Regions from separate parts of the Homo sapiens genome. Here region 2 is linked to region 1. Evidence: fine-mapped expression QTL. A gene starts in region 1. The other region holds a variant in brackets. All regions are shown on one strand. Distances are between the middles of the regions.

Region 1 (4,385 bases):
GGAAGACTGAAGCTGGATATTAACTATCTTTTCTTGAAAAAAATAGCCAAGTAAAATCTGCCTCTAACCCTAAAAAGAATATAAATGCTGCCTAAAACTAAGTTCATTCTAGTGGCTAAAAGTTAACAAATTCTTTCAACCCATCCAAAAATAGAAAGCAGTCCGAGAGCCCCATAAAATCTCCCCTCCCCCATCTAGATAGGGCTTCCATAGCCACCTCCGCTGGACTCCTCCCCTCACTTCCAGAGGGATTTTGCCTTGAGCAAGTCGGCCAATAAACAGTACAGCTCGAAAGCACACAGATTGCCTAGGCTGATGACAAACAGTACATTGAAAACAAAACAAACTCACTTTAAAAGGTGCATCTTCCCTGTTAACCTTACAAATGCGAGGCTTGTCTTAATCTCTGGAAGTATCAGCTTTAAAATCTGCAGTTTTAAAAGTGGTCATCTGCGCAGTACTCGAAGGCCTTTCAAAACACAGGTGCTGAACACCTCCTTCTTTAAGATACCTTATCTACGGTAGGATGTTCCTAATCACACGGAGGCCGGCCAAACTCTGGGCACCGCAAACCCACGATAAAAACAAATGCTGGGCCAAGACCTTGTCCAGAAACAGGCCTCAGTACTGCCTGGACTTAGGATGAGTCTGTAGGACTGTAAATGCTTGGAAGGCCAGCCTTTACTCCCAAGTCCAAGCGTAGTCTCCCTGCATGCCCCAGACCTTTCCCCCATCCACGCCACACGACACGACACGATCAGGGCGGGACAATTATTTTTCTTTAAACTCCTTCTGCCCGCGCCGCCCAAATTACAGGCCCGATCGCCGCGTTTAAAAGGCATCCTATGGCTCGGGAGTGTCAGGTGGCCGGGCCGGCACCCTCCAGCATCCTCGCGAACCGCGTTATCGGTGCCGCACTCGGGGCTGACACGCTCGGGGCGGCCCGGACTCAACGGGCGGCAAATCCTTGGCCACCCGGACGGGCCGATCGGCCCCTTTGTAAGATGAAGTTCCAGACGAGGCCCATTGTTCAGTTACATAATCTCAACGGACAACCTCGGGGCAGGGCCAAACACAAGGGCTGCCAACTTTGGGGGGCGGCGCAGGAAAGCGAGGGGGGAGCGGCCGGCCGCTTCTGTAACCGAACCCAGGCAGCGGCGCTGGCCCCTCCGGCGCCGCGGCCCCGGCCGCCGGGTGCCCGCGCCCGCCGCTCTCACCTTGGGCGTGTGCGGGGTGTCGAAGAGTCGCAGCTTGCGGAAGGTCTTGTGTGGCGGGGTGCCCGGGTGGTCCGGCCGCGGCGAGCGGCGGCCTTCGCCCGCCCGGCGCGCCCCGCAACCCCGCGGCGACGCATCTCCTGGGCCGCCGCAGCGCACCGGCGAGAAAGAGCTACCCAGGAAGTAGGGGGCCGCCGGCGACTTGACCGGCGACGAGGAGCCGAAGCCCTCCTCCTCCCACGAGTCGCCCTCCGCCCCACCGCCCGCCTCGTCCGCGCCCGGGCAGGCGCCGGGCAGCAACAGGTCCTCCTCCAGCTCGCCGGGGCTGCCGGGGGCCGGCCCGGGCGAGCGGCGGCGCTCGGGCCCGGGCTCCGTGGGGCTCCGCGCGGGCGGCAGCGGCGAGTCGGGCTCTTGAAAGGCCGAGTCCTCCCCGGTGCTGTGGCCGCTGCCCTCCTCCTCCTCCTCTTCTTCCTCCTCCTCACAGTCGCTGCAGGGCGAGAAGATCAGCTTCTGCCGCAAGGTGCAGGCCGCCCCGGCGCGGCGGGGTGGCGGCGGCTGCTGTCGGCTCAGGAAGCTCATCGCGGCCCTGGGGACGGGGCCGAGGACAGGAGAGCGGAGGCCTGCGGGGTCCAGGACACTGCGGGCCTGGGGGCGGGTCCGCCACGTGCGGCTGGGCGCGCCTAGTCGCAGCCGCGGCGTCTCTGCGCGGCGGCGGCCTGCGGCTCCGGGGCGCTCGGGCTGCGGACGGTGGCGGCAGCGGCGGCGCGGACTTTCCGGCAGAGGCGGGGCGGCCCGAGCACCGAGGCTGAGGTCTCCTCAGGTCCAGTCTCAGGTTCGGGCTCCGCGGCTTCCCGCGACCGTTAACCACGTGAGTGCCCAGTCCACCAATCCCAGTGCAGCTCCGGGTTTGAAAAAAAAAGGAGGGCGCGACGTAGCCCGCGGGGGAAGGACCAGCTACGCGATTTTGGCGGGAACCCGCTGGCTCCACCCCCGGCTCGGCGCCAGCCAAGTCTGGGCGGGCTGTGGTGTTCCGGGCCTATGAGCGAGCCTGGGGCGGCGGGGGGCCCGGCCCGGCGCCGCCCGAACACCGCCCGGACGGGGCTGGGCCTTCTGGGAGGGGCAAAAGAGAGCTGGATTCGCCTAAGCCGACCCGAAAGCCGGCCTGGACGCACCCCCCTCGCTGCTCCTCCGGTGCTGGGGGATCTGAAGAGGGGCAGGCGGCCGGGCAGCGCCTCCGGGTCTCTGCGAGCTGGGAAGAGCCAGGGACCGAATGGCCTTCGGCCGCTGCCCTCGGAGGCCGCTTCTTGCCCCTCGTCCCCTGGGGCGAGCCACTGGGGCGTAGTGGGCGTGGCAGTGGGCAGCCACGTTCAGGGTCGAGGTCTGAGCCGGAAATGGTGACTCGGGCCTCGGGACCTTTCTGAACTGCGGGAGCCGATGTGCTTAGGCTGGACACTGGCTGGGAGGAGGCCTCCGAGCCCCATTATTTCCCCGGGGTGGGTGACTGTTAGGGGCGGGTGTCAGCACAGCGAGAAGAGCTCTCCCAAGCAGGGGTCCACCTCTGCCGACCTTGTCCGCGGCCAAAAGAAACAGCAGCACAGTTGCCCACCACGAAACCAAGTGCCCGGCACACGATCTCCGTGTTTACATTTGTTCGCCAGCACGTGGGCATGCGTTGGCAAAACCGATTGGCCCGGCTCGCGGCAAACTCAAACGCAATTTTAAAAAATTTCCCTAGTGCTTCGTTAAACTGATTTAATCTGTCCCTTAATGCACTTACACGTTTCTTCCAGTTTTCTTTTTTCTTTCTTTGTTTATTTATTTTTTTTTTTTTTTCTGAGACGGGGTCTTGCTCTGTCACCCAGGCTGGAGTGCAGTGGCACGATCTCGGCTCACTACAACCTGCAACCTCCGCCTTTAGAGTTCAAGCGATTCTCATGCCTCAGCCACCCGAGTAGCTGGGATTACAGGCGGCTGCCACCACACCTGGCTAATTTTTGTATTTTTAGTAGAGACGAACTTCCCAATGTTGGCCAGGCTGGTCTCCAACTCCTGATCTCAAGTGATCCGCCCGCCTCGGCCTCTCAAAGTGCTGGAATTACAGACGTGAACCACCGCTCCCGGCCTCTTCCAGTTTTCTGTTGTAAACAACCCCGTGGTGTATATGCTTCCTTCTCCATGTTTTTTGTTTGGTTTGGTTTTTTTCGACACGGAGTCTCGCTCTGTCGCCCCAGGCTGGAGTGCAGTGGCGCGATCTCGGCTCACTGCAGCCCCCACCTCCCGGGTTCTCGGGTTCCAGCGATTCTCCTGTCTCCCGGGTAGCTGGTATTACAAGCACATACCAGGCCTGGCCAATTTTTGTATTTTTACAAAATGCAAAATACGGAGTTTCACCATGTTGGCAGGCTGGTCTCAAACTCCTGACCTCAGGTGATCTGCCCGCCTCGGCCTCCCAAAGTGCTAGGATTACAGGCGTGAGCCACCGCGCCTGGCCTTTTTAAAATACTCTTTTGGATACCTCCCTGGAGTTAGAATTCCTCAGTCAAAGGATATAAACTGGCAAACTCCCCCTCCAGAAACACAATACATTCTCACTAGCAGTGGATTAGAGCACACTCTGTGAATTCAGGACATCAGTGGATGTTCGTTGATGTGGTTTTGTTGTTTTGATTCATATTGTTGAACAGTTGTCATGGGTTTAATGATAATTTACATTTATCTCTATTGCCTATTTTTCTTATTGTTAGCACTTTATGCATATTAACACTTTGTCATATATGTTGTTCTAATGCTTTTCAAAGGCTAAATAAACTCAAGCTGAATTTTTCTTGAAACACACGGTAGTACTTAACACATCAAATCGGGAATTTCCTGAGATCACACAACTGAAGACACAGTGAAGGATCAACAGCTGTCTTTTCTCCTAACATTTGCTAACTGGTGTATAAATGTGTTTTTTATATGGTCATGCAAACTTAATTTTAAGCTCTTGGAGGACAAGAATTCTAGACTTGTATAAGGAGAGTTAGTCAATGATCCACAGTGGCCAAAGCCAAGGAGTGATTTTCAGAACCCTTGCTCCAACACTTCCCCTCCTGCCACTCCTTTTTTTTAAATTTTTATTTTTCGAGACAGGGTCTCACTCTGTCCACCCTGTCTCAAAGTGGAGTACAG
Region 2 (4,385 bases), 48 kb before region 1:
GCTTCTGATGATAATGAGATTAGGAGCTACAACTGCAGGCAAGCAGAAGCTGCAGAAGCCTTTGGTTGGGAAGTCAGTGATTATAACTATGCTTTGAGATATTGGTCTCTGGGATATCAAGGTTTATGCAAGAATGAACAGTTTGAGGGGAACTTTGACTTCCATAGACATTTTTCTTAATTTTAAAAAATTGTTTTCAATTTTTAATAAAAATTATATTTAGTAGAAACCAGGTCTTGCTGTATTACCCAGGCTGGTCTTGAACTCCTGGGCTCAAGAAATCCTCCTGCCTCAGCCTCCCAAAGTGTTAGGATTACAGGCATGAGCCACCATGCCAGCCCATAGGTACTTTTGCATAAAATTGACCTAAGGATGCACCTTCAGTGTCTACCATCATGCCTGTTGTCCTTTCCCATTGAGAGGTGACAGCGTGCTGGCAGTCCTCAGAGCCCTCGCTTGCTCTCGGCACCTCCCCTGCCTGGGCTCCCACTTTGGTGGCATTTGAGGAGCCCTTCAGTCCCCCACTGCACTGTGGGAGCCCCTTTCTGGCCTGGCCAAGGCCGGAGCCCACTCCCTCAGCTTGCAGGGAGGTGTGGAGGGAGAGGCATGAGCGGGAACCGGGGCTGTGTGCGGCACTTGCGGGCCAGCTGGAGTTCCGGGTGTGCGTGGGCTTGGTGGGCCCCGCACTCGGAGCAGCCAGGCAGCCCTGCTGGCTCTGGGCAAAATGGGAGACTTAGCACCCGGGCCAATGGCTGCAGAGGGTGTACTGAGTCCCCCAGCAGTGCTGGCCCACCGGCGCTGCACTCGATTTCTCGCCGGGCCTTGGCTGCCTTCCCACGGGGCAGGGCTCGGGACCTGCAGCCCACCATGCCTAAGCCTCCCACCCACTCCATGGGCTCCTGTGTGGCCGGAGCCTCCCCGACGAGCGCCACCCTCTGCTCCACGGCGCCCAGTCCCATCGACCACCCAAGGGCTGAGGAATGCGAGCACACGGCGCAGGACTGGCAGGCAGCTCCACCTGCAGCCCCGGTGCGGGATCCACTAGGTGAAGCCAGCTGGGCTCCTGAGTCTGGTGGGGACGTGGAGAGTCTTTATATCTAGCTCAGGAATTGTAAATACACCAATCAGCACCCTGTGTTTAGCTCAAGGTTTGTGAGTGCACCAATCGACAGTCTGTATCTAGCCACTCTGGTGAGGACGTGGAGAACCTTTATGTCTAGCTCAAGGATTGTAAATACACCAATCGGTACTCTGTATCTAGCTCAAGGTTTGTAAACACACCAATCAGCACCCTGTGTTTAGCTCAAGGTTTGTGAATGCACCAATTGACACTCTGTATCTAGCTGCTCTGGTGGGGCCTTGGAGAACCTGCGTGTGGAAACTCTGTATCTAACTAATCTGATGGGGACGTGGAGAACCTTTGTATCTAGCTCCGGGATTTTAAACGCACCAATCAGCACCCTGACAAAACAGGCCACTTGGCTCTACCAATCAGCAGGATGTGGGTGGGGCCAGATAAGAGAATAAAAACAGGCTGCCCGAGCCAGCATTGGCAACCTGCTGGGGTCTGCTTCCACGCTGTGGAAGCTTTGTTCTTTCGCTCTTTGCAATAAATCTTGCTACTGCTCACTCTTTGGGTCCACACTGCTTTTATGAGCTGTAACACTCACCGTGAAGATCTGCAGCTTCACTCCTGAGCCCAGGGAGACCAGGAGCCCACCGGGATGAACGAACAACTCCAGACGCGCTGCCTTAAGAGCTGTAACACTCACGGCGAAGGTCTGCAGCTTCACTCCTGAGCCAGCGAGACCACGAACCCACCAGAAGGAAGAAACTCCGAACACATCTGAACATCAGAAGGGACAGACTCCAGACACGCCACCTTAAGAGCTGTAACACTCACCGCGAGGGTCCACGGCTTCATTCTTGAAGTCAGTGAGACCAAGAACCCACCAATTCCGGACCCACCATCTCCCCTTTCACAATCTCCCTTTCTCTTTGCAAAAGAAAGGTACATCTCTTACCCATCCTGAATCTTATATTGCAAATTGGTCCAGGATATTAAAAATTCATCTCTTTAAACAGGACACCTATAGGAGGCTTCAAGTCTTTCCCTGTCTTATACATATTTCTGTTAAGTTTGAAGCACCACAGTGGAAACAGTGTAACTTAGCACATGTTGAGATGTTAGAGATATTGACCAAGGAATAACAAGCTTTATTCCTTCTCCCATCTCTAGACTGCTGTGAAAGAATGCTTTGCTTCCAAAACAGAATCCTATGAGGGCAAA[TGAGGGCAAAA/A]GAAATAGAAGTTCAGTAGGAAATACCAAACACGGCAGCACCTTCTGTCATCCCAGCACAAACTCAGGGCCTTGCTCTCTGCCTTGGATAGTTATTCAATTTAGAACTAGAATTCAGACAAGAGATAAGGAAACACACATTTTATTGAAATTGAAAACTGAAGCCTAATTGGCTATTAATTTGATAATAAGACTGGTTTTGTCAATTTGGTTATATGACACATATTTTCCTAAGTTGAATGAGTTGCTTCTGTAGCTCTAAGGTTCCGACAAACTATAAAGCCCATAGTAAGATAAAACATTTTATTTTTAAATAATTATATTTGGTCCAGGCATGGTGGCTCACACCTGTAATCCTAGCACTTTGGGAGGCCTAGACGAATGGATTGCTTAAGTCCAGGAGTTCAAGATCAGCCTGGACAACATGGCGAAACCTGGTCTCTAAAACAAACAAACAAACAAAAAATTATATTGGCAAGGCATACTAAAGTTAATATTTTTATGTCTCCAATTCTTTCTCAGTATATTGGGCTACATAAGTTTCCTCTATATGAAATAATGAAACATATAAGTAATTTTTTTTTTTTTTTTGAGATGGAGTCTCACTCTGTCACCCAGGCTGGAGTGCAATGGCGTGATCTCGGCTCACTGCAAGCTCCGCCTCCAGGGTTCAAGTGATTCTCCTGCCTCAGCCTCCCAAGTAGCTGGGACTACAGGAGCCCCCCACTACGCCCAGCTAATTTTTTGTATTTTTAGTAGAGACGGAGTTTCACCGTGTTAGCCAGGATGGTCTCGATCTCCTGACCTCGTGATCCACCCGCCTCAGCCTCCCAAAGTGCTGGGATTACAGGTGTGAGCCACCGCGCCCGGCCAAGTAATATTAATTTGTTACGTTTTGGTAAGAATTTTCTTGGAGCCGGGCGCGGTGGTGGCTCATGCCTGTAATCCCAGCACTTTGGGAGGCCAAAGCATGAGGATTGCTTGTGCTGAGGAATTTGAGGGGCAACATGGCAAAACCCCATCTTTACAAAAAATGCAAAAATTAGCCAGGCATGGTGGCATGCAACTATAGTCCCAGCTTATTGGGAGGCTGAGGTGGGAGAATCACCTGAGCCAGGGGAAGTTGAGGTTGCATCGAGCCATGATTGCACCACTGCACTCTAGCCTGGGCGACAGGGTGAGACCCCATCTCAAATAATAAAATAAAATAACAAAAATAACCCTGGCTCGTTTTAAGAACTCATATAACACCAAAATGTAAAAAGTGAAAAATTAACCCCTTTGTCCCACCCATTTCATTTTCTTAAAGCTATTGCAGTTACAAAATGGAATGATTTCTATAATACCACACCTCAGGTGGGAAAAAACATAGACTAGCTAGAGAGGAGAGGAGTCAAAAGGTGAGGAAGCCTAACTCCTGGGTCACCCTGGGTCTAAATCTGGATCTGTGCCTGCCCTGAAGGCCTAACTCAATGTGCTCAGCTGCAGGTACACTCACACCCTGAGGGTAGTAAGGAATAACACTGCCCCACTCTTTGTGTTTCCAGATGCCTCTGAGACCCAGGGCCCAGAGAACTTCTGTGCATAGACCCTGCAGGCAGATTCCCCTTCTGGGGCTCTACTAACTCTGGTACCCATATATTTCAGTCCTTTCAGGGACTTGCATGTTTGAAAAACCTGCTGGTTAACCTGGATGAATCTCTATTTGGTGTAACTGGTAGCTCTTCCCCACATTCCTTCCACCCACCAGCATGTCCCACCCCAGGAATTGACTGGCCTCAGAGAGTTCACAGGGGATGAGGAAGGGAAGGTTGAGCATGGTCTCAGTTGCACAGCTGCCCCACACAGCTGCTTGGAAAGCTTTGGTCTTCTGATCCCGCTTTTGTGCCCTTCTTGACCCGAGGCAGGTCCAGAGCCCCTGGGCAATAAAAGGACAGTATTTACTGGAGGAGCACCAGCCAGTTCACTTCATTCATCCCACCTTGAGATATTTGGCTGCTCCTGCAACATATTGGTAGCTCCGTGAGAGTGAGACAAATGTCCTGCTCAAAGATTATAACACTTGTGTGCTTCGCCTTTTTTTTTT

Alleles and levels. Positions count from the first base shown, and alleles are read on the strand shown. Sizes are in standard deviations (SD) of each study's normalised expression.
As copies of TGAGGGCAAAA replace A in region 2, the expression in lymphoblastoid cells of the gene that starts at base 2,057 in region 1 goes down (small effect, 0.38 SD a copy in GEUVADIS).

The links. PIP is the estimated chance that this variant, and not a neighbour inherited with it, causes the effect.
Region 2: its variant is the best candidate, but not a certain one, in a credible set for the expression of WEE1 in lymphoblastoid cells (GEUVADIS, PIP 0.56).

The regions. Positions count from the first base shown.
Region 1 is chr11:9,571,342-9,575,726 of GRCh38, reverse strand. It overlaps WEE1 (WEE1 G2 checkpoint kinase), which reads right to left and starts at 2,057. Exons shown (of 11, transcript NM_003390.4): 1 at 1,218-2,057. The coding sequence starts at 1,793. RefSeq lists silencers at 1,435-1,534, 1,825-2,034, 2,055-2,404 and an enhancer at 1,979-2,831.
Region 2 is chr11:9,619,634-9,624,018 of GRCh38, reverse strand. No RefSeq gene overlaps it. Among named protein-coding and RNA genes, the nearest start is that of SWAP70, 42 kb to the left of the region's middle. The variant TGAGGGCAAAA/A (reference allele first, on the strand shown) is at 2,291.